Linked DNA regions of Homo sapiens. The protein of the gene in region 1 interacts with the protein of each later gene in a pairwise test. Each region holds a gene or a part of one and is shown in the gene's direction. Other genes may lie near its edges.

Region 1 (4,326 bases):
CCTGACTATTTTCTCTGAGTATGTGGTTTCTCTTTTCATTCTCAGAATGTTATATTTTAAAGAGCAGACATTATTTTTATGAAGCCCCATTTGTTCTTGAATTGTATCATGCTTTTGGTGTCATATCATAGACATGTTTGCCTAACTCAAGGCCATACAGTTTTTCTGTGTTTTTCTAGACATGTTGTGATTTTAAGTTTTAGATTTATGTCATTCATTTTAATTTTTTTGTATATGGTGTGAGATATGGCTGAAAGTCCTGTTTCTTTCTCTTTTTTTTGTACATGGGCATCCCATTGTTCTAGCATCATTTATTGAAAAAAAAAAACTATCGTTTTTCCTGCTAAATTACCTTCGTATCTTTGGTGAAAATTAGTTGTCCATATATGTATGAGTCTGTTTCTGGAATCTATTTAGTTTCATTAATCTGTTTGTCTATCTTGATATCAATGCTATATTGTCTTGATTACTATAGCTTTATAAACCTTGAAATGATATAGTATTAGTCCTTCAACTTTGTTCTTCTTTTTCATTCATTCATTTATTAATTTAGAGATAGGGTCTTGCTTTGTCACCCAGCCTAGAGTGCAGTGGCACAATCATAGCTCACTGATTAAACTCCTGGGTTCAAGTTGTCTTCCCACCTCAGCCACCTAAGTAGCGAGGACTACAGGTTCATGCCACAATGCCTGGCTAATCTTTTTTTTGTAGAGATGGGGTCTTGCTATGTTGCCCAGTCTGGTCTTGAATTCCTGGGCCTCAAGCTGTCCTCCTGCCTCAGCCTCCCAGAGTGCTGGGATTACAGGTGTGAGCCACCATGGCCAGCCTGTTCTTTTTCAAAGTTGTTTTGTCTTTTATAGATCTTTTGCAGCTCTGTATGAATTTTAAAATCAGGAAAGTTTCCTGAATTATAGTTTTTTTAATTGGTTCTGTTGTTTTAGTTTTCTTTTTCAATTACCACTATTATGTGTATGTTTGAGCTTCTTTGCCTATCTTTGTCATTTTCATATTTCTTCTTCATTTCTTTTTAATTTTTTAAAATTGTTTTCCTTTTAATCTCTATTTCTCTTAAGGCATTGTCTGTAGTCTTTACTCATTCATTTTCCTTCTTTAATCTTCATTTCAGAAATAATTAGTTTTTAAAAGTTACTAATTTCTAGATTCTATCAGCTCATTTCCAAGTTTTATTTCTAATTATGTTGTTTATGTCTTACAGAGTTTTACATGTATTTTAGTTTGTTTTAATATAGAGGTTATAGTTCCTATCTGTTTTGTGAGCACGTCTTTCTAGTATATTTTTCTTGTCTGTAGAGATTTTTTTTAATATGAACTTTTACAATTTAAAATTTTTTTAATTTCATGGGTGCACAGATGTGTATGTTTATGGGTTACATGGGATATTTTGATACACCATATAATATATAATAATCATATCAGGGTAAATGAGGTAGCCACCATCTTAAGCATTTATCCTTTGTGTTAGAAACAATCCAATTATTCTCTTTTAGTTACTTAAAAGTGTGCAATTATATTATTATTGAATATAGTCAACCCATTGTGCTAGCAAATATTAGATCTTATTCTTTTTTTCTATTTTTTTGTACCCATTGACCATCCCCTCTTCCTTTCAGCCCACCTGTTACTCTTCCCAGCCTTTGGTAACCATCCTTCTACTCTGTGTCTCCATGAGTTCAATTGTTTTGATTTTTGGATCCCACAAATAAATGAGAACATGTGATGTTTGTCTTTCTGTGCCTGGCTTATTTCACTTAAAATAATGACTTCCAGTTCCATCCATGTTGTTGCAAATGACAGGAGCTCATTCTTTTTTTATGGCTGAGTAGTACTCCATTATGTATATGTACCAGATTTTCTTTATCCATTTGTCTGTCAGTGGACACTTGGGTTGCTTCCAAATCTTGGCTTTTGTGAATAATGCTGCAGTAAACATGAGAGTGCAGATATCTCTTTAATATGCTGATTTCCTACCAAAAATATAAAAAATTGGCCAGTGTGGTGGCATGTGCCTATAATCCCAGCTACTCAGGAGGCTGAGGCAGGAGAATCGCTTGAACCTGGGAGGCAGAGGTTGCAGTGAGCCGAGATTGTGCCACTGCACTCCAGCCTGGGCGACAGAGTGAGACTCAAAAAAAAAAAGTTGTTTCAGATCCTTATACATCCTGGCTATTAACCCTCGTCAGATGGGTAGTTTACAAATATTTTCTCCCATTCTGTGGGTTGTCTCTTCACTTTGTTGTTTCCTTTGCCGTGCAGAAGCTTTTTAACTCAATGTGACCCCACCTGTCTATTTTTGCTTTGGTTGCCTGTGCTTGTGGTATATTACTCAAGAAATCTTTGCCCAATCCAATGTCCTGGAGAGTTTCCCCAATTTTTTTGTAGTACTTTCATAGTTTGAGGGCTTAGATTTAAGTCTTGATTCATTTTTATTTGATTTTTGTATATGGTGAGAGATAGGGGTCTAGTTCCATTCTTCTGCATATGGATATCCCAGCACCATTCATTGAAGAGACTTTTCTTTCCCCAATGTATGTTCTTGGCACCTTTGTCAATAATGAGTTCACTGTCAGTATGTGGATTTGTTTCTGGGTTTTCTGTTCTGTTCCATTGGTCTATGTGTCTGTTTTGGTGGCAGTAGTATGCTGTTTTAGTTAATATAGCTCTGCAATATAATTTGAAGTCAGTTAATGTGATTCCTCCAGTTTTATTCTTTTTGCTCAGGATAGCTTTGGCTATTCTGGGTCTTTTGTGCTTTAAATTTTAGGATTATTTTGTCTATTTCTGTGAAGAATGTCATTGGTATTTTGCTAGGCATTTGCATTGAATCTGTAGATTGCTTTGAGTAATATAGATATTTTAACAATATTGATTGTTTCAATCTATGAACATGGAATATCTTTTCATTTTTTTGTGGCCTCTTCAATTTCTGTCATCAGTATTTTATAATTTTCATTGTAGAGATGTTTTACTTCATTGGTTCAGTTAATTCCTAGGTGTTTAATTTTCTTTGTGGCTATTGTAAATGGGATTACTGTTTTGATTTCTTTTTCAGATTGTCCTTGTTGGTTTATAGAAATGCTACTGATTTTTCTAAGCTGATTTTGTGTCTTGCAGCTTTACTGAATTTGTTTACCAGTTCAAATAGCTTTTTGGTGGAGTCTTCAGGTTTTTCCAAATATAAGATCATGTCACCTGCAAACAAGGATAATTTGATTTCAAATTTTGATGGCCTTTTTTTCCTTTCTCATGTCTAACTGCTAGCTAGAGCAATTCCAGTCCTTTTTCATCTCTAGCTAGAGCAATTCTAGTCCTAACTACAGCAATTCCAGTCCTTTTTCATCTCTGATTTTATTTGAATCTTTTTTCCTTTCTTCCTTCATAGTCTGGCTAAAGGTTTGTCAATTTTTTATCCTTGTTCTGTTCTAGATCTTAGAGGAAAGGCTTTCAGTTTTTCCCGATTCAGTGTGATACTGCCTGTGGGTCTGTCATACATGGCTTTTATTATGTGGAGGTATGTTCCTTTTATACCTAGTTTTTTTAGGGTTTTTTTTTTAAATCATGAAGGAATGTTGAATTTTATCAAGTGCTTTTTCAGTATCAGTTGAAACGATCATATGGTTTTTGTCTTTCAGTCTGTTGATAATGATGTATCACATTGATTGATTTGCATATGTTGAATCATCCTTTCATCCCTGGGATAAATCCCACTTGTTGATGATGAATGATCTTTTTAATGTGTTGTTGAATTTGGTTTGCTAGTATTTTGTTGAAGATTTTTGCATCAATATTAATCAGGGATATTGGCCTGTAGGTTTTTCTCTCTCTCTCTCTTTTTTTTTTTTTTTTTTGATATGTCTTTGTCTGGTTTTGGTATCAGGGTAATACTGGCCTCATAGAATGAGTTTGGATGTATTCCCTCCTCTTCCATTCTTCAGAATAGTTTGAGTAGGGTTGGTGTTAATTCTTTAAATGTTTGGTAGAATTCAGCAGTGAAGCCATGGAGTCCGAGGCTTTTCTTTGCTGGAGGACTTTTTATTATAGCTTCAATGTTGTTAGTTGTTATTGGTCTGTTCAGGTTTTGGATTTCTTTATGGTTCAATCTTAGTAGGTTGTTTGTGTCTAGGAATTTATCCATTTCTTCTAGATTTTCTAGTTTATTGGTATATAGTTGCTCCTAGTAGGCTCTAATGATCCTTTGTATTTCTGCAGTATTGGTTGTAATGTCTCCTTTTTCATCTCTGATTTTGAATCTTTTCTCTTTTTTCTTCATTAGTCTGGCTAAGGGTTTATCAGTTTTCTACATCTTTT
Region 2 (4,326 bases), on another chromosome or scaffold:
GGATAACCTTCTAGAAGTGTATTTCAGTGAGTTTGTATTTCTAAAATTTTTATGACATATCACTTAGCCATCATTCAGAAAAGCCATGCAGATTTATGCTTCCATCTATATAGTATATATACATACACGTGTTTCTGCATCTCCTCACTAATGCTATAATGTATTCTCTTTTTTTTTAAGTATTTTTAATCTTTGAAGCCTTTATGAAGGGACATGATGAAATACCACGTTAGTGTAGGCATTCTGTGGAGTTAGAAAGTATTCTGACCAATTGCTAGCGAAGAAAAGTGTATCCTTGTGACAAGGAGTTTGGCCTCTCCTTAAATTACAATACTGTGTCACTTGTAGATTTTTTTCATTGCCCAAACTTCACTTTGGCTGTGAAGACATGAACCCAGTAATATTTTCTTTTTGGACTTACTAGGAAACTAGTAACGTTTAATGAATACAGTATGTCTGAAGACTAACACATTTAGAAATTAATATTTATTGGGTACTTTGGACATCTTAATCTTTCTGTTACCATTTTGTGGTTATAATCTTAATTAAAATTCTCTTGAAATTTGCTGGCTTTATAGACAGTGTAATAAAATTATTTACAATGGCACTCTTGTATTCAGAATTTTTGCGCTCATTATAACTGAGAAGTGTGAGAGTTTGTTCAGTTAGAATTAAGTTTTATTATCTTAATACTTATTTATAAGTTACATATTATATATTATATAATAAATATTTATTATATATAATATAAATATAATATATAATAAAATATATTTTATTATATAAATATATTATTTATAATAAGATAATAATACTTTATTATCTTAATAATAAAGTTAATTGGATTAAGTGGAATGAGATTATGAATGATTTTTCTTCTTTCATGATGCAGAATTCTCCAAAACACCAGTGGGGAGAAGAGGAACCAAATTCTCAGATGGTAATACATATTTGCTGTCTCTGAGTATATGTTAAATTTTTAAATTTCTGATGGCTAATAATAAATAACACTAATAATAGCTTTTAAAGAACACAAGTAAATAAGGGTTTGGTTAAAGGGAAAGGGGAAAAAAAAGAACTACATGCTGCTTTCTTTTCTTCTTACTTTTCCTTCCTCTCCCTCTTTTAGGAAAAAGATCATAATAGTGAAGATGAGGATGAAGATAAATATGCAGATGATATTGACATGCCTGGACAGAATTTTGACTCCAAGAGACGAATTACTGTCCGGAATCTCAGGATTCGAGAAGATATTGCAAAAGTAAGTCTTGTCAGCTTAACATACATATTTGAAAAATACTTGTCTTCCCAGCATAAATTTTATCGACTCTGGGTAGCATATGGATAATATAGTCAGAGTCATTCTAAGATAAGGTTTCATTCTGTTTTTTCTCTTCACCTGAACCCCAGAAATGTATACACACATTTATTTAATTGATCATGTTCAACTCCTCCAACTAGTCTGCTGAAATCTTTTTGCTGTGAGTAAACATTAATTCTTTAAATATTTTTTTCTTCTAGTATTTGAGGAATTTAGATCCAAATTCTGCCTACTATGATCCAAAAACTAGAGCAATGAGAGAGAATCCTTATGCCAATGCAGGAAAGAATCCAGATGAGTAAGTATCAAGTTAAATGTACAGATTTTAAGATGAGAGAAAGTTAATTGTTTTCTGACCTGACCATAGATGGTGTTCATTTTAATTCAGATTCAGTTTTACGAATTAATTTTCCTTAAATCAATCTCTGAAACATTTTCTTTATTTGTATTTACAGAGTGAGTTATGCTGGAGATAACTTTGTTAGGTACACAGGAGATACCATTTCAATGGCTCAGACACAGTGTAAGTGTTTCCTCTATGTCAAGCCATTTTATATCAGCTCATAAGACGTTTGGGATTGTTTAAAGCTTGTTTTCAAGAAGCATACAGTAATGCAGCTGCCAACTCACTAAGATGTTTTGAATTACTCTAGTGTTTGCATGGGAAGCCTATGACAAGGGATCTGAAGTGCATCTACAGGCAGATCCTACAAAGCTAGAGCTGTTGTATAAGTCCTTCAAAGTCAAAAAAGAAGATTTCAAAGAACAGCAGAAAGAAAGCATCCTGGAAAAGGTAATTTTGACCAAAATGCTAAAGAAGAACTTCTGTTAAAGAGAAGTTACTAGTTAATAAGCGTTAGTTTTACATTTGGAAAATAATGCAAAGAGAGCCCTCTTAATCCATGAAGAATAGTCCTTTTCTTCCTTTCTCTTAGTCAGATGGTAATTTTGTATGAGCTTTTGCAGCAAAACAAGCTACCTCAAATCTTAATAGCTTAAAATAAACATTTATTGTTTCTCACAGTTGGCCAAGTCTCCTGGTCTGGGCTTGCTCAGCTGAGGTTAGATGATGAACTAAGATGGCCTCACTCTTGTGTTTAGCAGTTAACAGGCTAATTGTCCTAAGGGGACCTCTTCTGGGACAGCTCATCTCCACCCCATGTGGTCTTTCATCCTCTAGTAGGGTAGCACAGCTTTTTAAAATGGCATTCTCAGAGTTCTAGAGAGTGGCAGCAAAAAGTGTGCTGTGGTACATAAGTGCCTTTGCTTGCATCACATTTGCCAACTTTCATTGGTCAAAGCAAATAACATGGTCAGGCCCAGATTCAAGGGACAGAGAAAGACTTCGTCTCTTGATGGGAAGAAAAGCAAAGCCCTGTGGCAAAAGGGCATGTATAGAAAGATAAGAGGAATTTATGGCCATCTTGTAACTTACTGTACTCAACAGATGAATAGCAACTGAGACATCTTCTATTTGCCTCAGAAAAAATTTGTGGCTTTTTTTTTCCTACTGTGCTTTCTATAACAAAACCCAGTAAAGAATGTTCCCTTTCTTTCTGATTAGAAATAAATGTTTTCTGGAAATTTAAATGCAAATCAGGTTGTAAAATGTATTGAATAATGTCCAATGTCCTTTTAGTATGGTGGCCAAGAACATTTGGATGCCCCTCCAGCTGAATTGCTTTTAGCCCAGACTGAAGACTATGTGGAGTACTCAAGACATGGGACAGTCATCAAAGGACAGGAGCGGGCTGTTGCCTGCTCTAAGTATGAGGAGGATGTGAAGATCCACAATCACACAGTATGTGCTAAACTGGAACAATTTTGTGTCCTTGTTGGTTTTGCTCTGTATTGCATTTTTCCACTACAACTTTATTAGCTAACCATTTGTATTCTCTATGCTTTAAAAAAAAAAAAAAATTTTAACTGTTTCATGGAATTTTTTCAAAAATAGAAAAATTTTGAAGGAATACTATGTTCATCTATATACCCATCATCTAAATTCTGAAATTTTTAACATATTGCCTTATATGCTTTGTCTAGTTGTATGTGTGCATATGCACAGTTTTACATATATATGTAAAATACACATATATACACACATATAGTTTATGTATATATTTATTTGACTGAAACATTTGGAAATTATGTATATCATGACATTTTATCCATAAACGCTGTATCACATATCTCCTTAAAATGAGGATTTTCTTCTATATAACCACATCGACATTATTGCACTTCAGAAAATTAACATTATATCACCTAATATCTAGTCATTAATCACATTTTCCAAAATATACAGAAAAATGCCTTTAACACCTATTTTTTGTTTTAGTCAGAATTCGTTTCAAATTTCTTTTGATCGTTATGCGGTTATTATGTCTCTTTTCTAGAGTGTATCTCTTCATTTTCATGACGGTGACCATTTAACAGATTAGGCCAATTAGTTTGTAAATTGTCTCATATTCTGTATTGACTGGTTCCTAGTAGTGTTATATAACTTGTTTCTCTATCCCTGTATGTTTTATAAATAGGAATTTAGGTCTAACGGCTTGATTGGATATAAGTTAAATATTTTGACAAGAATATTTAATAAGTAATGTAGTATATTCATATTGCATTGTAAACATCATAAAGCATATATTGTCCTTTGCTGTTCTCTTGAAGTAACCAAACTACAATTGTCTCTCTTAGTTGAGGGTCAAAAACCTAACTCCCTATAGGAGCCAGACCAGTGATCATACATGAGTGAAGTGAGCCAGGCAAATTGTACAAACTGGAGAACACAAGCCCTATCTAATGGGGCATCCACTGTTCAGCAACAGCTGATTATTGCCAAGTGGTTATATAGGCCCAGAATTTCCCACTCCTACGTTTTTCAAGAGAAGTCAGATACCCTAAATTTTTTAATAGGCTTTTGGGAATAGAATTTAAGAGTTTTGTAACTACAGGTCCTGCTTCTCACACTTCAGGTCAGACTACCTTCTCCCTGTTAGCCAGCC
Region 3 (4,326 bases), on another chromosome or scaffold:
AATGTGCATATGAGAAAGCATCACCTGCAGCTGGGAGCAGCTGGGAGTCAAGAGCAGGAGCAAACTGGTGAGGAGGGTGGGCATAGTGGAACGCTGTACTACTTCTAGGGTTCCAAGAGCCAAATCACTGTCCTGCCTGCTTATCTGGAAATTTTCTGATTCTGTTTTGGGTAGATAGACCTGGTCTCATTTGATGGGCTGATGGTTTCCAAACATAGCTATACAGTAGAATCATCTGCAACCTTTTAAAATTTATATACTTTTTGTTGCTTGTCCGCCCACCAATAAAACAAAGCAATCTGATAAATGAGATAATTTGCAAGATCCTAGAATCTGTAGTTTTAAAAGTTTCCCTAGTGAGTTTGATGGTAACTAGTGCTGATCCATGAACAAGCATTTGAGTAACACAGTGATAAAAGATTTCCACATGGGAAGAGTTTAAGCTTTTTAATTTTTTTAGATGGAGTCTTGCTTTGTCACCCAGGCTGGAGTGCAGTGGCGCCATCTCGACTCACTGCAACCTCTGCCTCCTGGGTTCAAGCAGTTTTCCTGCCTCAGCCTCTTGAGTAGCTGGGATTATAGGCAGGTGCCACCACACCTGGCTGATTTTTATATTTTTGTAGAGACGGGGTTTCACCATGTTGGCCAGGCTGGAAGCATATTTTATTTACCAGTCATGACTACCTTTTTGCCCTGCCTGAAATTTGATAACTCTTTTTAATTCTTATTCCTTCGCCATATCTTTCCTTAATTATTCCAAATATTCCTTTCTAAAGATCCACCTATCCTGTTTCATATGCTAATTCTTCAGACGCTGAACACAAGCAAGGATCATTATCTTCTAAGGCTTACTCTTTCCCTTCTAGGTTTATTCTTGTTTCTCGAAAGTAGGTGAAATAGGGGGTGGCATCCCATCTATAGGTTAACTTCTAGTAATGAAAGAGAAGGCCAGCTTCTGTTGAAAGAAAATGAGGACCAGGCACAGCCTTGATTGCTGTATGTCTCTCACAACCTATTCTCTGTGCAGCTGAGCCACTAATGGGCAGTAGTTTGCTTGAAGAGGCTTCAGTACCCAGTAAAAACCTGGTGTCTATGAATTCCCAGCCCAGCCTTGGTGGAGAGTCCTTGAACCTACCAAATACCAATTCTATCCTGGGAGTTGATGATGGTAAGACTTCCAACTCTCCTTTATTTGGGAAAAATGGGCTGCAACTAGGGGCTAAGGAATGGGGTGTCTCCACAATGTATGTTTAAATCTCATTTCTTATGAGTAGCTGTGGTATGAGTAGCATTTGTGTTCTTATTCTCTGGGGTGGATTAGTCAATCTGTTTAAAAAAAAATTTTTTTTCATTGAAGATAATATAATAAAAGAATAAAAAGAAAAAATTCTTAAGAAAAAATTATTCCTAATCCTAGCATCCTAGCCCAACTATTTCTATCTTTCCTATTGCAGTTATGGAAGAACTTAACTTTTAGAACATTTAAACAGAACATAACCAGGTTTTACAGAGGAGATATAAAGCAATTTCTCCATACCTTCAAAAGCCATATCTTCTGGAGAAAAGAAAGGGCTCTCTAGGAAACACTTGCTCCTCTCTGGTATAGAAATTTCACCCAAGTTACACAGGCCAGGCCCTCTTCTCTGAAAAACTTAACAGGTGAGGTCAGCATGCATTTATTCAGTGCCTACTGTGTGCCTGGCACCATGGGAAAGACAAAAGTAGAAGATAGGGACCTTAAAATCCAGTTGAGAAGTGAAAGCTTACATATATATGGGAAAGAACATTGAGTACATAAAAGATAGTATATAAGCCAACATTAAATTATATGGTACAGCATAAAATAGTTGTATAATCTAGAAAACCCCTAGAAGAAACTTCTAGTTTTTTGAGGGCTAAGTGGTATATCCATAAACTATTTCCAGAAGATTTTCATGGTGATCCCACTGATGAACATTTAGTAACTGTGAGACCCTATGTTTTTGTTACTCATATCATATTCAGTTAGTAAGTGCTATTAGTATCATTGGCGACTGCTTTTAAGGGTGGCTTTGGTTCCCTTACCTGCTTGCCTAAGACTTTTGCCTGTTTCATACATAGTTTTAATTCAGTTAAAAGTGCTAACACCATATTATTCTAAATCCTGTATTAAGATTTCTTGCCTTTCTATTCTCTTTTTATATTACTTTCCAAATTCACTGATAATGCTTATCAGACAGGATTAACTTGGAAGAAATAGAGGAATGTGGGAAATAGAGGAATAGAGTTTTAGAGTTGTTAATGAGAGGCTTAATGATCCAGATAGGTGTATCTCTGGATTCACTTTTCATTGAAACATTTTTCTGTTGCTTCACAGAGGTGCTTGCTGAAGGATCCCCACGTTCCCTGTCTTCAGTGCCTGATGTGACACATCACCTGGTGACCATGCAGTCAGGGAGGCAATCATATGAAGTTTCTGTCTTAACTGCAGTAAATCCACAAGAGGTAAAGTGGTCTCTTGCCCTTTGTTTCTGTGACAATTCATGTGGGGAATGATTGAGAATTTAGAGGACCTGAAAAAGTCTCCAGTTTCCATTTCCTGGAAACTTTGGCACGAATATTTTCCTTTAAATTAAGCATGAGTTCAGCTTGAAAGGAGCCTGAGGGTTAGGGTCTTAATGAATTGGAGATTGGTCTGTCACAGCTGGGACTCCCGGCTTTAAAGTTCTTTTATATACATTCCTTGTTGATGTCTGTTCCCACTATTCTCTGCCACACTATAACATGATACAGCTTTTATTTTATAAAAGCACACAGCAGGCACTGAATAAATGCATGTTGACCTCACCTGTTAAGTTATTCAGAGAAGAGGGCCTGGCCTGTGTAAATTGGGTGAAATTTCTGTACCAGACAGGAGCAAGTATTTCCTAGAGATCCCTTTCTTTTCTCCAGAAATAACATCCTGGAAAAAGTCCCTCAGCAAAAAAGGTAGTAACAAAATCATTAAACATAATTATTGTTCATTCTGCTATGGTCATATGTCTGGGAGATACCAGGCTTAACCAAATGGGCATATACAGATTTGTTCACTTGCTTGCTAAGTGAGAACCATTACCTAAATCAATGGTCTCCAGCCTTTTTGGCACCAGGGACCGGTTTCGTTTCACCTCAGGTCATCAGGCATTAGATTCTGATAAGGAGTGCGCAACCTAGATCCCTCAAATACACAGTTCACAATAGGGTTTGCGCTCCTATGAGAATCTGTTGCTGCTGCTGATCTGACAGGAGAGGTGGAGCTCAGGTGGTAATGCTTGCTCACCTGCTGCTCACCTCCTGCTGTGTGGCCTGGTTCCTAACAGGGCACGGACCAGTGCTGGTCCATGGCCTGGGGGTTGGTGACTTCTGATCTAAACAAAAAGGGTTTGAGGTTGAGCTAAAGCACTTTCAACTCTGTAGTTTGGCTTTGACTCAGGAAACAGAATGCAAAGTGGTCAGTGTTTTAAAATCTTGGGATATTTCACTGGTCTTGTGTCATGGGAGTGGATGACTTCATCACGAGCACATTTCATATGCATAAACTTTTGTCAAAACCTCTGTAGCTTGGATCCTTTCAGTATTACATTAGTTTTTATGGTGCTCTTCCGTCTTTTCTCCTCTTTTCTTTTCTTTTTTTTTTTGAGACAGAGTCTCGCTCCGTTGCCCAGGCTGGAGTGCAGTGGTGCGTTCTCGGCTCACTGCAACCTCTGCCTCCCAGGTTCAAGCGATTCTCCTGCCTCAGCCTCCTGAGTAGCTGCTACTACAGGTGCGTGCCACCACGCCCAGCTAATTTTTTTGTATTTTTAGTAGAGACAGGGTTTCACCATGTTGGCCAGGATGGTCTCGATCTCTTGACCTCGTGATCTGCCCACCTCAGCCTCCCAAAGTGCTGGAATTACAGGCGTGAGCCACTGCACCCAGCCTTCTTCTTTTCATTATAACCTTTATACCACAGTAAGCTGTTGCATCATTCAAATGACTCTGCATCCTATATTGAATATTCTCCATTATTCTCTAATATCTTTGGGGGTACCCAGGATTACAGGGTTCTGGGCATACATGTTAATGCTTTTGCCAGGACTTTTCTTTTTATTGTTGTGACCCATTGTCTTTGCTTATATTTAAAGTTTTTGATCTTGATATCATTGGTTCTTTCCTAAGTCACTTTTTCTGGTAACTGCTTTGGAATGAATCATACATATCTCACTTACGGAGCCTTCCTCTTTCTCCTCCATTTTTCTTGTCTTCATTTTTCTATTTTAAAGCTTTTATTATGGAAATTTTCAGAGTACAGTGAGAGAGAGACTAGTA
Region 4 (4,326 bases), on another chromosome or scaffold:
CAGGCAAGAGGTGCCTCTGGTGCCTCCGCATCTACGAATTGAATATGAACTAATGTGGTGCGGCTGGGTGGTTGTGTCCTCTCCAGCCTTCCTTGGAGGGGTCGTTGCTCTTGGGACAGGGGAGTTCCCCTGAGCATTTTGCTCAGGCTGTTTGTTAAATGGGGTAAAGCCACCTCCCACCATGTGCCGCATAGGTGATGGTGGTGGCAAGGTCCTCAGAGCCCGTCAAGGGCCCTTCCCATCTTGTGGCCACAGGCAATGAGGGCCTTTGCTTTGAATTTGTCCTAACCAGAAATTAGTGGTTGTCTTTCTAATGTAGAGCTTTTTGTTTGTTTGTTTCTAGAGCAAATCATGGAGGAAGATAAAAAACATGGTGCACTGGTCTCCCTTCGTCATGTCCTTCAAGAAGAAGTACCCCTGGATCCAGCTGGCAGGACACGCAGGTAGACACAGCTCTCCCAGACTTTCCCAGCATGGTGCTCAGCCCTCTGGGGAGGTGCCCTGGACGCTGCATTCTGGGGATCAAAGCTCCAGAGCAAGTTCCCTCCAAGACTTTCTAGTCTGAAATCACAGCCACACTTGCAGGCTGCGGCCTTACCAATGCCTTGTAAATGCCATAGACAACGGACCTCTCTGGAGTCTGTGTTACCCCATCCTCCAAAACATGCATCCTCCCCTCCCTCGGTCTCTGGCTCTTATCTCTGTCTCTTCCAGTCTCTTTCTTTCTGTCTCTCTTCCCGTTGTATTCAATAAGACAGATGAAGCCATCAGTCTTTATAGCTTACCTGCCATTTGTCACCCTGGACAAAGAGGCAAAGCTAACCCCTTCATTGAGCACCTACTGTGTGCCTAAATTGCCATGGTCCTGGGGGTTGCGGCATTAATGGAGATGTAGTTTCTGCCCTGAGGGAGCCTGCAGCTGGTGGAAGATGCGGCCAAGCCACCCCATAACTGCAGGGCGGTGTGCGGTGTTGGGAGGAAGGTGGCTAGGAGCTGAGTCCAGGCAGTGCCGGGGAGAAGGGACATCTGGAGCCGAGGCCCCAGAGCCATCTAGCCCACATGTAGGACCCTCTGGAAGCACTGTCATCTGGAGACATGTCAGGGGCTGCCTGTGGACTTGGCCTTCGTGACTTCACCAGCCTCCTCAGGCCAGCACAAGGTCCCGCATTTCGCTTACCTCGTTGGCCACACTGGCCCAACTCAAGGCACATGGATGGACAGCCTGTGTGAATACTTACTTGGTCTGGCTCAGAAGAAGTGCCACCCAGGTGGGCTGAGCCTTAGGCCCCCCAGCTTCTCAGCCTGCTGTATCTCCCCACCTTGGCTCTGAATCCTGTCCAATCAGGGTTTCTCTACTGAGGCCAGGAGACACCTTCGTTGCCGAGAAGCAGGGCTGATGATGGAGGTGAGGATGAAAATAGCAACACTAAGGAATGACTGGGTCGTGGCACCTCAGTCTCTCACCTAGCTCTGTACCCTTCCAGCAGGGAACACTGGTGAGGAGGAGTCTGGAGTCAAGGAAGCTGGGGAACCAGCTCAGAATTACAGTTAGTGAGTGGGGACTAGGTCTTGAACCCACTCCCCTTAAGGTGCTCAGTCCATAGCAGGGACATAGACACACCTTCAGCCCCAGGCTTAGCCATCCCCAGGGAGGCCCAGACCCTGTGCTGGGGAGGGTGCCTCTGCCAGCTACCTGCAGCCGGAGACCAGGAACCTTCTACACTTGCTCTCCAGGGAGTTTCAAGGCAGCTGCCAATGGCAGGATCCTGAAGAAGCACTGTGAGTCAGAGCAGCGCTGCCTGGACCGGCTGATGGTGGATGTGCTGAGGCCCTTCGTACCTGCCTACCATGGGGATGTGGTGAAGGACGGGGAGCGCTACAACCAGATGGACGACCTGCTGGCCGACTTCGACTCGCCCTGTGTGATGGACTGCAAGATGGGAATCAGGTGAGCCAGGCTTCTCGCAGCCCACATGCCTGCCTCAGTGCAAGCCACATGGCAGGTGCACAGCGTGGCACTCAGGGCTTCCCGGAGGCCTCACAGGTGCAAGGGCAGGCTGAGGAGGCTGTTGGACCAATTAGAGCCTCCCCATCCCCAGGCATCTCCCATTATTTGCAGAGGGTTCCGGGACCTGGGCTTTGCCCATGATGGCCCCTTTCCTTCTCCAGTGAGCAGAAGCCAGGGGCTGGCGGAACCAGAAAAAGGGCACCGGCTGGGTTCTGAGGCCCCCTAGAGAGAAGGAAGAGAGAGCTGCCCTTGGTTCAGGTGGGATCGCTGGGGGTGCGGGGAGCCACCAGGTAGGGAGGTCGCAGGATGGTGACTTCCTGCTGTGTGAGCTGCAGGGGAGATGGGAATCGAGGTCTTTCCATTTCCCCAGCCCTGGTGAGTGGGAAGAGAGAGTGGCTAGTAGAACATGCTGGTTTCCCAAAAAAGACCTGTATCTGCCTAAAAGGAGGAGGAAGCCCCTGACGGAACTCAAGAAACCCACATGGCAGGTCACCGCAGGGCCCCAGGTGAGCCCGGAGCAGTCACTGGGCCTGTGTGCAGGACTGGCTCCCACCCCCAGGTTCCTGACAGGGGCTCAGGCTCACCCTGACACCTGCCCAGGGGATAAGCCTGGAGAGGACTCCAGGGAAGAGGAGAGAGGAAGAGGGGGCTTGAGGAGGCAGGGCAGAGAGCAGACAGGGATGCCTGAGGCCGGCTGCTGTGATCTCGGGGCTCAGTTTTAGGCAGCCGGGTTTTCTCATTACCTCTCAAACTGCTGCCCTTCCACCCTGAGTCATCCACAGCACGGCTCCTTCTCCCCTGTGCAGGCTTGGTGAACCTCCCTAAGGCTGTCGGCCCCCATGGTGTCCAGCGTGCGGTGCTCATGTTGTGGGGCTGGCCCTCACTGCAGCACCCGGGCTGGACGGCCAGATGCCAAGCCCCCCCATGCTTCCTTGCAGGGCTGTCTGGGAGGCCAGGCACGGAGACTCAGAGCTCAGAGCAGAAGGCTGTGTCCACTGTGACTGGTTTAACCGGATTATTTCTCATAAGAGCAGATTGAGAAAGAGGGGTGTGTGTGTGAGAGAGAGAGAGACAGAGACAGAGGCCAGGAGAGAAGAGAGCTAAGCCAGCCAGCATTTCTTTCCTTCTTTCCTTTCTTCTCTCTCCTCCTGGGAGTTCTGTCCTAAAATCACACCCTGCCACTGACTGTTGTGTTCTCTCGCCATCACTCACAGGGAAAGAATGGGGGATGGAGAAGCACAGGCCCCACTGTTTGCTCTTGAGCCATCCCTGGCCACCTCCCTCCCACCATCCAAGTTCCTTACTATCTTTAGCCCACAGGGACCTGGGATAGGGCAGGGAGGAGAAAGAACATGCCCCCAGCCAGCCCGAGGCCTTTGCTTTTCCCGAGTCTGATTTCTGACCCAGGATGGCATCCACTGGTGCACCAGAATGTGTCCTCTCAGGGGAGGCCCAGCCCTTCCTTCCAACCCAGACAGCAGCAGGACTTCGCAGGTGACCACATGGAGAATAATCCAAGTGGTGTCCACTCAGACCTGGCCAAAAAAGTACGGCCTGTGTGAAGAACACTGGCTGGGCATTTCTGGAAGTCGGCTGTCCCAAAGACACAGCCAGCCAAGCACAGGGCCAGGCTGCCCCAGAACCTGCCTGCTCCTGCTGGGGACAGGAGCCCCGCTTCCTGCCCCAGGGCTGCCCCCACCCAGCCGCTTGACTTCCGCAGCTTCTCTCTGATTGCACCCTAGTGCTCTCAAGAGAGATCTAGAGTGACCGTGGCTGGTACCCATGTAACCCATCTTGGCAGGCAGAGGGAAGAGGATGAGAGAGGAGTATGTGTGGAGGGGAAGAGGAAGGTCTCCCCAGAAGCAGGGTGCACCCAGCCCGATCTTTCCTGCACACAAATCCTAAGGACCCTTCTTGTTCCAAGGGCTATGCTAGATGCTTCCATTATTTATCCCATTGCGTTCTCACCGCCATTCTGGGAGATGGGTCATGTTCCAGTGTAAGCAGGAGGGTTCTGTCACCAGGAGGTTCAGTGACTCATCAGGGCCACCCAGCCAGGCAGCAGCTTGGTGCAGTTCTGCACCAGGCTTGCTTGACTGCAAATCAGGCCCCCAGCTGCAGCCCAGCCCTTCCCAAGGGGGCTGTGTGGGACCCAGCTTCCATGGCATTTCCCTGGGGTGCCAGGCTAGTTCCATTTGGGCCATGGACTGTGCCTTCCCCCAAATGCGTTCATCCAGAACCCTTGGCTGCAGGGCCTCTCCCAAGACTGGCTGCTCATGGTCACCTCTAGAATGTGGCCTTTCCATGACAGGGTGAGG
Region 5 (3,682 bases), on another chromosome or scaffold:
TGCCTGGCCTACTGTTCTCATCTTCATATCTGTGTGTACCCAGTTCCTCCCCATTCAGCTGGTCATTGAGAGACCTGTCAAATTTTCTTCCTAAATAATTTTTGGATCTGCCCTTCACCATCCTTGGTGGTGAAATGCCAGGTGGAACCTTTATTTCCTATCTGAATCATAATAGTTTGATTGATTTTTCTGCCTTGCTCTTTGCAGAACCATTCATTATACCTTCGCCTTACCATTTTCATTCCCCTACTAAAATGTTAACCCTGGGTAGACAATTAATAAGCCTTTATAACAGGGACAATCATCCATTCTCACCAATTCCATTTATTCTCATTTTCAATGAATGATATCAAGGGGTCTTCTCATTAACTTCTCAAAAAGTATAAACAGAGTTACCATGGCAGTGAATCGCCATTGCTTTTTTTTTTTAGTACATTTTTTGCTGCAGTCTATTTTGCTGGAACTATTGCTGCTAATTAACAGCTGGTTTTTAATAAATTTGCTTGCAGCTATTTGCTTTGCCCATTTATAGGAGTTAATTGTGGTCTCGCTGCTGCTGAGTGATTCCCTAACACAATATGCCTGTGATTCTTTACAGAATAAACTATGTTGTCCTGTTTCTTGGAAATCACAGGATTAATTAACTGAGAAGATGTTAAATTGAATTTTAAACCAAAGTCAGATGAAGGCTTACTGGCACAAATTTTGACTAATGTCTTTTTAATGTCTTATATATTTAATTTGCTGAAGTCAGAATATACTGTTGGTAATGCATTCAGAGCTAGGTTTGGGGTTTCTTTATTCTTCTCTGCAGTCTTTAGGGTATAGTTCTTATTTCTCATTTTGCCCTTCCTTTCAGCTCCCCAAGACTTGTCTTTTGATATTCACAGACTCTGGATGGGTTTTTACTTACTTTTCTAAAAAATATTATTGTTATTCACAGTGAGTGCGTTTTAGCAGCAGTGTTTCTTTTTCAGTTTTCCAGAGTATCAGGAAATGCCCTGGTGATAGTTTTATCTATTGTAATCAGTCCTTGCTATTTCAGGTTCTCCTGTGTAACACTAGACTCCATGGCCCCTCATTATACTAGATTTGGCAAATATCTGACAACTACGTTGCTCAAGTCAGGCTTTAGGTCACCTTCAAACTCTTGACGACCACTACCACTTAGAGAAAGTAGCATGATGTAATATAAAAGACCTAGGAAATGGTCAAGAGACTTGGTTCTACCACTCACTAGCCTTGTGACCTTAGTCAATTTCACCTTTGAGGCGGGGGCCGGGGGAGACTTGGTTTCTTTATTAAATATGGGGGTTAGACTGGGTACTCCTCCACACCCTTCCCAGTATGAATGCCATTGGTACATTGGAACTGGGCCATTCCTAGTATTAGGAATGCTTGCTTTACTTGGAGGTCTTAGCTTTAGTTGGAGGTCCAGAGGGCAATTCTTGGCCCTCTAACAGTTCAGATCCACTCATGGGAGCTAAAATGGGCTAAAGTGGAGGCACTAGTGTGAACCCAGTCACTATGTGGCTCCATAAAGCCTGCCATCTCTGGAGCTGTGATGAGAGGGTCATCACAATTCCAACAGATCTTAAAGCCGGGAAGTGACATTCTACAGATTTGAACCCAGTTCTAAATTCATATTCTTTTTGTTATATCCCTTGCTTCCTCCACAGAGTAAAGATTACAACACTGGTGCTTTTATCATCTTTAATGGATTGGGGATATGGCTTATAAAGAGTAAAAATTACAGTAGATACATAAAATAAAAGAAATTGGCTGGGTGCCATGGCTCATGCCTGTAATCCCAGCACTTTGGGAGGCCAAGGCCGGTGGATCACTTAAACCCAGGAATTCAAGGCCATCCTGGACAACATAGTGACGCCCCGTCCTACAAAAAATACAAAAATTAGCTGGGCATGGTGGCACGCGCCTATGGTCCCAGCTACTCCAGAGGCTGAGGTGGGAGGATCGCTTGAGCCCAGCAGGTTGAGGCTGCAGTGAGTTGTGTTTGCACCACTGCACTCCAGCCTGGGTGACAGAGCAAGACCCTTTTTCAAAAAAAAAAGGAAAAAGAATCCTCTGACAACAATTATTGCATGAAATCTTTTTTTTTTTTTCAGATATCTTTATACAGTCATAAAAGTATATAAAACCTAGGTACAATATAAAAAATAATTATAGATCAATCTAATGTGGCCACCACCCATGTTAACAAATAGACCATTGCCAGCACCCCAAAAACCCTATGTGCCATTGCAGATCACAGCCCTCTACCTCTCCCCAAGAGGTAACCACCATTCTAACTTTCAGGATAAGTACTTCCTTGTTTTTCTTTGCAATTTTACAGTGTGTGTACCTATCCTCAAACAATATAGTTGTTTTGCCCATTTCTGAACTTTATATAGATCATACAATATGTACTTGTCAGTGCTTTGCTTCTTTTGCTCAGTATTATATTTGTGAGATCTATCCATGTTGTGGCATGTAACTGTAGTTCATTCATTTTCCTTGCTTTGTTTCACTCCATTATAGGAATAGACCACAATTTATTTATCCATTCTGCTACTAATAGATATTTGGGTGATTTCCCATTTGGGGTTATTGAAGGACAGTACTATCCTGAACATTCTTGAACATGTCCTCCCTTGGGACTCATATGTGGGAGCTTCTCTGGTTATATTCCTAGGAGTGTAATTGTTGGTCATAGGGTATGCAGATTTTCAAACAACTGTGACTGCTGAACTTAATTATCACCAGTACTTTTAATCCATATTTTTTTTTTTTTTTTTTTTGAGACAGAGTCTTGTTCTGTCACCCAGGCTGGAGTACAGTGGCGCGATCTCGGCTCACTGCAAGCTCCGCCTCCCAGGTTCACGCCATTCTCCTGCCTCAGCCTCCCGAGTAGCTGGGACTACAGGCGGCCACCACCACGCCCGGCTAATTTTTTGTATTTTTAGTAGAGACGGGGTTTCACCGTGTTAGCCAGGATGGTCTTGATCTCCTGACCTCGTGATCCACCCGTCTCGGCCTCCCAAAGCACTGGGATTACAGGCGTGAGCCACCGCGCCTGGCCTAATCTATACATTTTTGATGAAAATTTAAAGTCTTCTGTTCTCGTCTAAAAAGGTTTGTCTTTCCTATAGAAAAATGCAAGAATGGCAGCAGAAAAGCATTATTCTAATACCCTAAAAGCACTAGGAATATCTGATGAGTTTGTTTCAAAGAAAGGCCAAAGTGGAAAAGTACTTGAGTACTTCAACAATCAAGAGACGAAAAGTGTCACTGAAGACAAAGAAAGGTAACATATATAAGATGTCTGAATGGCTTACCTTTGAAAAAATTATTACCTGCAGAAAAGCACAATTTTATACTATGTATATTTTTTGTTCTATATTGTTTTAAAAAGATCTTTTACCCAATAGTAAAAGACATATGAACTGTTGTAAAACACACTGATATTTTAACATGTTTGACACATTAACGTTCACATGAAGTATTTTATTTTTAAAGCAGAATAACAGATTTCTTAAAGACATAAGTAACAAAAATAATAGCATGCTTTCAAATGAAGTTTAAAGAAACAATCACTCAAATTTTGAAATAAATTAGTTTTCAGGAATATTAAATTTCTCAATGGGCACTTTTATAGCGTTTTCTTCTTTTTTTTGAGTTGTCT
Region 6 (4,326 bases), on another chromosome or scaffold:
TTTTCCCTGGCAAATTCACTTTTCTTCAGAGCTACGGAAGAACACATAGTCTCTATTCTCAAAGTACCCAATATTGTTGGACTGGGACCCAAATAATGAGTCTCATGCTTTTGTATATTACCTTCTGTGATACAGACAATTAGACTGAATAGTTAGACCAAGTTATATGGTAAGTGCAGAAGCTGGTTGAGAAAAGGGAGATCAGCATGGAACAAAATGGTTAGGGAATTGAGCAGTACCTTGAAGAATGGGTGGGAAATGTTGGATGATCAAAGCACAGTTATAGAGACAAAAGCTGGCTGGACTTGGTAAAAAGATGAGTCTGACCAGCCAAAGCATTCTGTTGGGATCATTGGCAGTACTGAGAAGGCTAATGAGGAAAAGTGGAACTAGGTTGTGGGAATCCTGAGAAACAGCCTTTGAGGCTTTGGATGCACCACACACTTGTGTTCCACTGCTGTTTCCTCATAGCCCATTCTCTTAAGCCCCAGGAATCTGGCTTCATCTGCCCCCAGGTTTCTGACAGCGAGTTCCTAAAGGTGGTCTCTAACTGTCCTGGGAGGAGGAGGAGGTGCTTCTATTGGCTTGGAGCCCCCTGTGTTAGTTTGCTGGGGCTGCTATAACAAAATACCACAGACTGTATGGCTTAAAAAATGGAAATTTATTTCTTACTCTTCTGGAGACTACAAGTCCAAGATCAGGGTGTTGGCAGATTTGGTTTTTTTATTTTATTTTAATTAATTAATTAATTTATTTATTTTTCTTGAGACAGAGTCTCACTCTGTTGCCCAGGCTGGAGTGCAGTGGCACGATCTTGGCTCACTGCAACATCTGCCTCCCAGGTTCAAGCGATTCTCCTGCCTCAGCCTCCCGAGTAGCTAGGATTACAGGCACCCGCCACCATGCCAGGCTAATTTTTTTGTATTTTTAGTAGAGATGGGGTTTCACCATGTTGGCCAGGCTGGTCTCGAACTTGTGACCTCAAGTGATTTGCCCTCCTCAGCTTCCCAAAGTGCTGGGATTACAGGAGTGAGCAACTGTGTCTGGCGGTTTTTAATTTTTTTTAATTAATTTTTAAATTTTTTTTAATCGTGCAGCCCTCAGAATTACAGTAGATTCAGAGAGACTCCCTTATTTTTTGAGACAGGGTCTCACTCCATTGCCCAGGCTGGAGTGCAGTGGCGCAACCTTGGCTTATACAGCCTCGAACTCCTGAGCTCAAGGGCTCCTCCTGCCTCAGCCTTTTGAGTAGCTGGGACTACAGGTGCAGTTTTTTATTTTTAGTAGAGAGGTCTCACTAAGTTGCCCAGGCTGGTCTCAAACTCCTGGGCTCAAGTAGTCCTCCCGCCTTGGCCTCCCAAAGTGTTGGGACTACAAGCCTGAGCCACTGCCCCCGGCCTGAGAAACTCCCTTTTGAAGAATCAATTCTGTAAGGAAACAGTGCATTCTGTCTTCCCTGACCCTTTTAACTCTGGCAATTAATACTTGATGAAGGCTGGGCGCCATGTCTCATGCCTATAATCCAGCACTTTGGGAGGCTGAGGCAGGCAGATTGCCTGAGCTCAGGAGTTCGAGACCAGCCTCGACAACATGGTGAAACCCCATGTCTACAGAAAAATACAACAAAATTAGCTGGGCATGGTGGCACATGCCTGTAGTCCCAGCTGCTTGAGGGGCTGAGGTGGGAGGATCATTTAAGCCTGGGAAGTAAAGGCTTCGGTGAGTTGAGATGGTGCCACTGCGCTGCAGCCTGGGCGACAGAGTGAGACCCTACCTCAAAAAACAAACAAACAAACGAACAAAAAAACACATTGATTAAATGTTAGAGATGGGCCAGGCATGTTGGCTTATGCCTGTGATACCAACACTTTGGGAGGCCGAGGTGGGAGGATCACTTGAGTCCAGGAGTTTGTGAGCAGCCTGGGCAACACAGGGAGACCCTTATTCTACCAAAAAAACCCCAAAAAACAAACAAAAAAAATTAGCTAGGCTCAGTGATGGATGCCTGTAGTCCCAGCTAGTTGGGAGGCTTAGGTGAGAGGATCACTTGAGCCTCAGAAGTTGAGGCTGCAGTGAGCCATGATCGTGTCACTCCACTCCAGACTGGGCAGCAGAGCAAGACCGCATCTCAAACAAAACAAAATATTAGAGACGAGTTCTCATTTCATATTGCTGTAGTTAGTGGCTCCTTGGATAGTCCAAGATAAAAAGTTTCCTACTACTTTTATCATATACTTTTTCCCACACCTCACTCTCCAGAAGTATCCTTGGTTAAGTTTGGGGTATGGGGTATATCTTAGAGCCAGATTTCTATACATGTGCAACCATATGTACTTATACTTTTAAACTACAAATATCATAACATACTGTTCTGCACCTTGCTTTTTTACCTATCATGGGCTATCTCAGTATATAAAGTGTGTGATGTATGTCATTCTTTTCTGTTTGCTACATAGTGCTTTAGTGAATATTCTTGTATTTTTTTTGTACTTGGAAAATTATTCAGTTGGATTTATTCTTAGAAGAAATACTCATTGGTCTAAGAGAAGGTACATATAAAAATTGATAAGTACTGTCAAATTAGCTTCCAGAAAAGTTGTACAGACTTGTACAACTTTTAAAAATTCACCAACTTACCCATGATAGGACTAACAACATTCATTGTACTAATAAAAATTAGAGCTAACATTTGGATATCACTTGTTCTGAGTCAGGCATGCTCTCTCTGCATAATAAGTCACTGAGTACTGTAATTATTGTCATTATCCCCATTTTTATAGATGAGAAAGGCTGAGGTAATGATTTTAAAAAAAATTACAGTGGCAGAAATAGCATTTGAACCCAGGCATTCACGTTGGCCTTGGCAGGCAATGGGTAGGGAGCATCAGGTTGGACAGATGGGCATGTCAGTGTTTCTGCATAACAGAATCCTAGACAGTAAATTGTAGATTTTAAGGGTGGACTTAGATTTTGATAATACCACTCAGTTTGCCTTGCAAAGAGTTAGAATGAAAAGTGGGGATAGCTGGGCATGGTGGCTCACGCCTGTAATGCTAACACTTTTGGGAGGCCGAGGCGGGCGAATCAGCTGAGGTCAGTTCGAGACCAGCCTGACCAACGTGGCAAAACCCCATCTCTACTAAAAATACAAAAAGTTAGCCAGGCGTGGTGGCAGGCACCTGGAATCCCAGCTACTTGGGAGGCTGAGGCAGGAGAATCGCTTGAACCCAAGGGGAGGAGGTTGCAGAGAGCCCAGATCATGCCACTGCAGTCCAGCCTGGGCGACAGAGCAAAATTCCATCTCGAAAAAAGAAAAGTGGGGATCTGTTTTTTGGAATCAACTCTTTCGTCACTAGTGACCTAGGTAATTCACTTCTACTTGTGAAAGGACAAATGCATGCACTTTTGTTTGTAAAAGGATAGCTCTATTCTTTGTCTGTGATCCAGGTAAAGAAATAGAGAATATTGCCAGGGAAGGTGCACCTGACAGGAATGGTAACTAAGCAGACCCAGGAGAACCATTTCTTTTTCTCTGGATGGTATTTTGCCTCTCAATCTTAATATTTTCTTTTTTTTTTTCTTCCCAGATGAGGGCTCACTGTGTTGCCCAGGCTAGTTTTGAACTCCTGGGTTCAAGTGATCTTCCCTCTGCCTCCTGAGTAGCTGGGATTACAGGCATGTGCCACCACACCAGTTTATAATCTTAATATTTTAAAAACTGAAATTATTCTCTTGGGGAACAGTAGGTAGTGGGGCTGCAGGAATCACAGGTCATACCTTCAAGCCAAATAGCTGTAGATGCATGGTCTTTTTTTTTTTATTTTTTGGAGACAGAGTCTCTATCTGTCGCCAGGCTGGAGTGCGGTGGCGTGATCTTGGCTTACTGCACCCTCTGCCTCCTGGGTTCAAGCGATTCTTCTGCCTCAGCTTCCCGAGTAGCTGGGACTACAGGCGCATGCCACCATGCCCAGCTAATTTTTGTATTTTTAGTAGAGACTGGGTTTCACCATGTTGGCCAGGCTGGTCTCGATCTCTTGACCTTGTGATCTGCCCACCTCAGCCTCCCAAAGTGCTGAGATTATTACAGGCATGAGCCACCGCGCCCGGCCAATGCATGGTCTTAAGAATGGATGAGACGATGCTAAGAGCTGTTTTGGAAGGCGTGAGGGTGTTGCCAGCTTCCAGGAAAGGAAGGGGTTCTCATCAACTGGATGTTACATGTGCTGTTTTCCAGGGCCTTAATAAACCACAGTGACTGAACAGAGACTTGCAACCATTTTCAACATTTGACAGAAAGTTTGGTCCTATTTGGTCATCTCAGAATTG
Region 7 (4,326 bases), on another chromosome or scaffold:
CCACCTCCCAGGTTCAAGCGATTCTCCTGCCTCAGCCTCCTGAGTAGCTGGGGTTACAGGCATGTGCCACCATGCCCGGCTAATTTTGTATTTTTAGTAGAGATGGGGTTTCTCTATGTTGGTCAGGCTGGTCTCGAACTCCTGACCTCAGGTGATCCGCCCGCCTCGGCCTCCCAAAGTGCTGGGATTACAGGCATGAGCCACCACGCCTGGTCAAGCCTGGCTAATTTCTGTATTTTTAGTAGAGATGGGTCTTCATCATGTCAGCTAGGCTGGTCTCAAACTCCTGACCTCAGGTGATCCACCCGCCTTGGCCTCCCAAAGTGCTGGGGTTATAGGCGTGAGCCGCTGCGCCTGGCCAAGATGAGCTTTAATAGGAATAAGAGGACTTGCTTTAGTGAGCGGGTAACACACGTCTTAACTTGCTTGCCTTAAGTTGCTAGAATGTAGGGTGGGGATCTGCTGAAACAAGATGAGGCGTGAGGGAGGGATTGCTCTGGTGAGTAATAGTGTTTACTTCAATATGTAGAAAAACAAACTAAGAACAGATGATCTGCTCTAATGAACAGCCTGGAAGCAAGCGAAGGGGTCTGCTTTAATGAGCAAGAGAGTGAGCTTGTGTGAGATCAGTCAAAGGGTATGTTTTAATGAAAATGAGCGGACCTGGTTCAGTGACCAGATAGAGTGGAAGGAGCTGCCCTGAGGTACAGGAGACTTCCAATAGGCAGGTAAAAAGTGGTTATTAGAGTCTGGGTGCAGTGGCCTACACCTGTAAGCCCAGCGCTTTGGGAGGCCGAGGTGGGGCGGATCACTTGAGGTCAGGGGTTGGAGACCAGCCTGGGCAGCATGGCGAAACCCCGTCTCTACTAAAAATACAAAAACTAGCCGGACGTCATGGTACACGCATGTAATCCCAGCTACTGAGAAGCGCTTGAACCCGGGAGGCAGAGGTTGCAGTGAGCCAAGATCATACCACTGCACTCCAGCCTGGGCGACAGAGCAAGACTCTGTCTCAAGCTGGGCGTGGTGGCTCACGCCTGTAATCCCAGCACTTTGGGAGGCTGATGCGGGTGGATCACCTGAGGTCGGGAGTTTGAGACCAGCCTGACCAACATGGAGAAACCCCGTCTTTACTAAGAGTACAAAATTAGCCGAGCGTGGTGGCGCATGCCTGTAATTCCAGCTACTCAGGAGGCTGAGGCAGGATTGTTGCTTGAACCTGGGAGGCAGAGGTTGCAGTGAGCCAAGAGCGCATCATTGCACTCCGCTCCAGCCTGGGTTACAAGACTCTGTCTCAAAAAAAAAAAAAAGTGGGGGGTTATTAGAGAAGTCAGCCTTGACCGAAGTGAGTTGATCTGGTGTGTGAGTGTAAAGGGTAAGTCAGTGACCTGCCCGTAATGAACAGATGGGAAAGTAGTTACCGGCGTGCTTTGGCGAGTGGGAAGCCTCTTTGGGGGGCAGGAAAGAGGCAGTTTATGGGTTCCACTTTAGTAAGGAAACACGGACAAAGATCATAGTGGTTGTGAGCAGTCAACCAGGTCAGCCCCTGTGCTTTGTGGGCCTTAAATGATTACATCTTCATAACGGCCTAGTGAGGGAGGTATCCACATCCTCATTTTGGGGGCACGGAGGAGCTAAGCCTCTTGTGTGAGGTCCCACAGTCCATGCAAGGGTGTTATTCCATTCTAGAGTGTTTTGCTGTAGAGTTACTGCTTTTAACTGTTAGGCTTTTGAAGTAAAAACCACAGGTATCTTTGTGGGAGGAAAAAGACAGTAAAAACCAGAGAACTAGAAGTTATGCTGAGAAGTGGCCATCCTGGGTCCCAAGTCCACTTCTGTGGCCCTCCCTGGGCTTCAGTGTCAACTGATGACTTGCTTTCTTCCTTTTTTTTTTCCCCCTGAGATGAGATCTCACTATGTTGCTCAGGCTGGCATCAAACTCCTGGGCTCAAGCGATCCTCCCACCTCAGCCTCCCAGAGTGCTGGGATTACAGGCGTGAGCCACCATGCAGGGAAGAGGTTCCCTGTTTGTCTGGAAGACCCTCCTATGTGGCTGTGGGCGTGACTCTTCGTGTCCCCAGCATGGGGCCTGCCTCCTGCTGGCCCAGCACTTGGTTGTGGAGGGTCAGAGCTTGGGCACCTTGGGCCCCATCCTTAGGGGCCTCTACCTCCAGGTAGGAGCCTGGGGACCTCCAAGTCTCCTGGGGTGACTTGGGATTCAGGTCTGATGGCTCCCATGGAGGTGAATAGGGTGGGTGGTCTTTGGCAGTGGGTAGGGCTGAGGCCTTGACTTGTTCTCTTTCCCATTCTTAGGGCTGACAAAGAAGAGAACCAAAGTCCAGAAGAAGTCACTGCTTCTCAAGAAACCCCTTCGGGTTGACCTCATCCTCGAGAACACATCCAAAGTCCCTGCCCCCAAAGAGTGAGTGTCCCAGCATCCCTGGGCCCTTCTTTCCCACCAGACTCTGGTCCTAAAGGGTTTCCGGGGCTGGGGGCTGGTAGGTGAGGGTCATTTGAAGGGTAGGGCAGGCTCAGGTTTGGGCTTCGGAGTGCAGATTAGAGGGAGGGAGTCTGGGTGCCCTGGTGCTGGGCCGAGGCAGGTGAGGAGGGGCCTGGACCCAGCTGGGGGCTTCGGGGTTGGAGAGGAGGGGCTGAGTGGGAGGCGTGTTCAGGAGGCACATCAGGTGGGTCTTGGGGCATGAGCGGGTGAGAGGGTGGACAGCTGGCCTTCCCCTGAGATGGGGATGTGGAGGAGTGGGATTTCGGGTGATGCTGAGGTTGGTTTTGACGTGGTGGTGTGAGGTGCCTGGGGTATGTCCAGGACGGGGCTGTTGCTTCGTTGAGTCTGGGGCTCAGAGGGGAGGCCTAGGCTGGAGACAGACGTGGGGAGAGGAGTTCTCTGAAGAGGGGGCGGAGTGCCACCTTTTGGAGAGGGGGTGCTGAAGCTGCCTTAATGGTGGAGGAAGCCCGACGGGGAGGAGGCCCTGCTGCCGTTCAGGCTGCCACCTCACCTGCTGCACTTGTGCCCCCTCTCCCCGACCAGCGTCCTCGCCCACCAGGTCCCCAACGCCAAGAAGCTCAGGCGGAAGGAGCAGCTATGGGAGAAGCTGGCCAAGCAGGGCGAGCTGCCCCGGGAGGTGCGCAGGGCCCAGGCCCGGCTCCTCAACCCTTCTGCAACAAGGGCCAAGCCCGGGCCCCAGGACACCGTAGAGCGGCCCTTCTACGACCTCTGGGCCTCAGACAGTGAGTGATCCTGCTGTCACCTATGAATGGGGACAGGACGGCCATGTGCAGTTTGTGTGTGTTGTGCACTGCACGAGAGTACAGTGTGAAAGGGAGTGCTTTGTGGGTGCTTTGGTGACCTCCCAGCAGAGTCGTGCGTCCTGAAGGGGCGGCCGTTTCCCACTCGTGCTTTTCCTTTCCTGAGTTGTGAGGCTTCAGGAAAGGAAGCCTTCAGCTTTGGTCTCTTCCACTTTCTGAACCCGTCCAGACACAGTTTTGTCCTGGTGATCAAGGCCCTTGGGGTCTAGAATCAGTCCTTCCCTTGCCTGAGCTTCAGGGTCACCTTTTTGAAATGTGGAGGGATTGGGGGGGAGCCTTTGGTGCCTCTTCCATGCTGGGACTGTCCCAGCAGCTCCCCTCGCTGTATCCACAGACCCCCTGGACAGGCCGTTGGTTGGCCAGGATGAGTTTTTCCTGGAGCAGACCAAGAAGAAAGGAGTGAAGGTGAGATGTGTGGGAAGGGCATCCTGGGTGATGGGAGGGTGAGGAGGGCCGGGAGCTGCTCTGTGTTCCTGCAGTAGAGTCTGTCTCAGAGCCCTTCCATCCCAGTGGCCGAGAACTCTGTGCTGGAGCCAGGTGGCTGGGATTCCTGTCCCAGCTCCAGTGCTGACTGATCCTGGGAAGGTGGTCTCACCTTTCTGCAACCTATATCTTCCTCTAAAATGCAGATGAGGGCCGGGCATGGTGGCTCACGCCTGTAATCCCAGCACTTCGGGAGGCCGAGACAGGTGGATCACCTGAGGTCGGGAGTTTGAGACCAGCCTGACCAACGTGGTGAAACCCTGTCTCTACTAAAAATACAAAAAAAAAATTAGCTGGGCTTGGTGGCACGTGCCTGTAGTCCCAGCTATTAGGGAGGCTGAGGCAGGAGAATCGCTTGGACCAGGGAGGTGGAGGTGGCAGTGAGCCGAGATCATGCCACTGCACTCCAGCCTGGGCAACAAGAGCGAAACTCTGTCTCAAAAAAAAAAATAAAATAAAATACAGATGAAATTGTACTTAGATCATGGGTCGGTGGGGAGAATGTAAAGAGGTAGCACATGA

The links.
Region 2: the proteins of CEP70 (region 1) and SLU7 interact in binary tests that used the Homo sapiens proteins (3 or more experiments, as listed by UniProt).
Region 3: the proteins of CEP70 (region 1) and ZNF410 interact in binary tests that used the Homo sapiens proteins (3 or more experiments, as listed by UniProt).
Region 4: the proteins of CEP70 (region 1) and ITPKB interact in binary tests that used the Homo sapiens proteins (3 or more experiments, as listed by UniProt).
Region 5: the proteins of CEP70 (region 1) and FAM161A interact in binary tests that used the Homo sapiens proteins (3 or more experiments, as listed by UniProt).
Region 6: the proteins of CEP70 (region 1) and COIL interact in binary tests that used the Homo sapiens proteins (3 or more experiments, as listed by UniProt).
Region 7: the proteins of CEP70 (region 1) and NOP53 interact in binary tests that used the Homo sapiens proteins (3 or more experiments, as listed by UniProt).

What each region holds. Positions count from the first base shown.
Region 1 is NC_000003.12:138,584,002-138,588,327, reverse strand, and holds part of CEP70 (centrosomal protein of 70 kDa), read left to right. Parts: intron 1-4,326.
Region 2 is NC_000005.10:160,405,264-160,409,589, reverse strand, and holds part of SLU7 (pre-mRNA-splicing factor SLU7), read left to right. Parts: intron 1-892; coding exon 893-940; intron 941-1,129; coding exon 1,130-1,261; intron 1,262-1,521; coding exon 1,522-1,619; intron 1,620-1,776; coding exon 1,777-1,844; intron 1,845-1,974; coding exon 1,975-2,114; intron 2,115-2,960; coding exon 2,961-3,122; intron 3,123-4,326. UniProt on the Homo sapiens protein: Required for pre-mRNA splicing as component of the spliceosome. Participates in the second catalytic step of pre-mRNA splicing, when the free hydroxyl group of exon I attacks the 3'-splice site to generate spliced mRNA and the excised lariat intron.
Region 3 is NC_000014.9:73,921,039-73,925,364, forward strand, and holds part of ZNF410 (zinc finger protein 410), read left to right. Parts: coding exon 1-67; intron 68-1,027; coding exon 1,028-1,168; intron 1,169-1,660; exon of another isoform or gene 1,661-1,698; intron 1,699-2,356; coding exon 2,357-2,484; intron 2,485-3,663; coding exon of another isoform or gene 3,664-3,765; exon of another isoform or gene 3,766-3,781; intron 3,782-4,326. UniProt on the Homo sapiens protein: Transcription factor that binds to the sequence motif 5'-CATCCCATAATA-3', and is specifically required to silence expression of fetal hemoglobin in adult erythroid cells.
Region 4 is NC_000001.11:226,644,789-226,649,114, reverse strand, and holds part of ITPKB (inositol-trisphosphate 3-kinase B), read left to right. Parts: intron 1-343; coding exon 344-443; intron 444-1,734; coding exon 1,735-1,948; intron 1,949-4,326. UniProt on the Homo sapiens protein: Catalyzes the phosphorylation of 1D-myo-inositol 1,4,5-trisphosphate (InsP3) into 1D-myo-inositol 1,3,4,5-tetrakisphosphate and participates to the regulation of calcium homeostasis.
Region 5 is NC_000002.12:61,826,726-61,830,407, reverse strand, and holds part of FAM161A (protein FAM161A), read left to right. Parts: intron 1-3,149; coding exon 3,150-3,304; intron 3,305-3,682. UniProt on the Homo sapiens protein: Involved in ciliogenesis.
Region 6 is NC_000017.11:56,954,061-56,958,386, reverse strand, and holds part of COIL (coilin), read left to right. Parts: intron 1-4,326. UniProt on the Homo sapiens protein: Component of nuclear coiled bodies, also known as Cajal bodies or CBs, which are involved in the modification and assembly of nucleoplasmic snRNPs.
Region 7 is NC_000019.10:47,747,865-47,752,190, forward strand, and holds part of NOP53 (ribosome biogenesis protein NOP53), read left to right. Parts: intron 1-2,313; coding exon 2,314-2,422; intron 2,423-3,043; coding exon 3,044-3,243; intron 3,244-3,655; coding exon 3,656-3,726; intron 3,727-4,326. UniProt on the Homo sapiens protein: Nucleolar protein which is involved in the integration of the 5S RNP into the ribosomal large subunit during ribosome biogenesis. In ribosome biogenesis, may also play a role in rRNA transcription.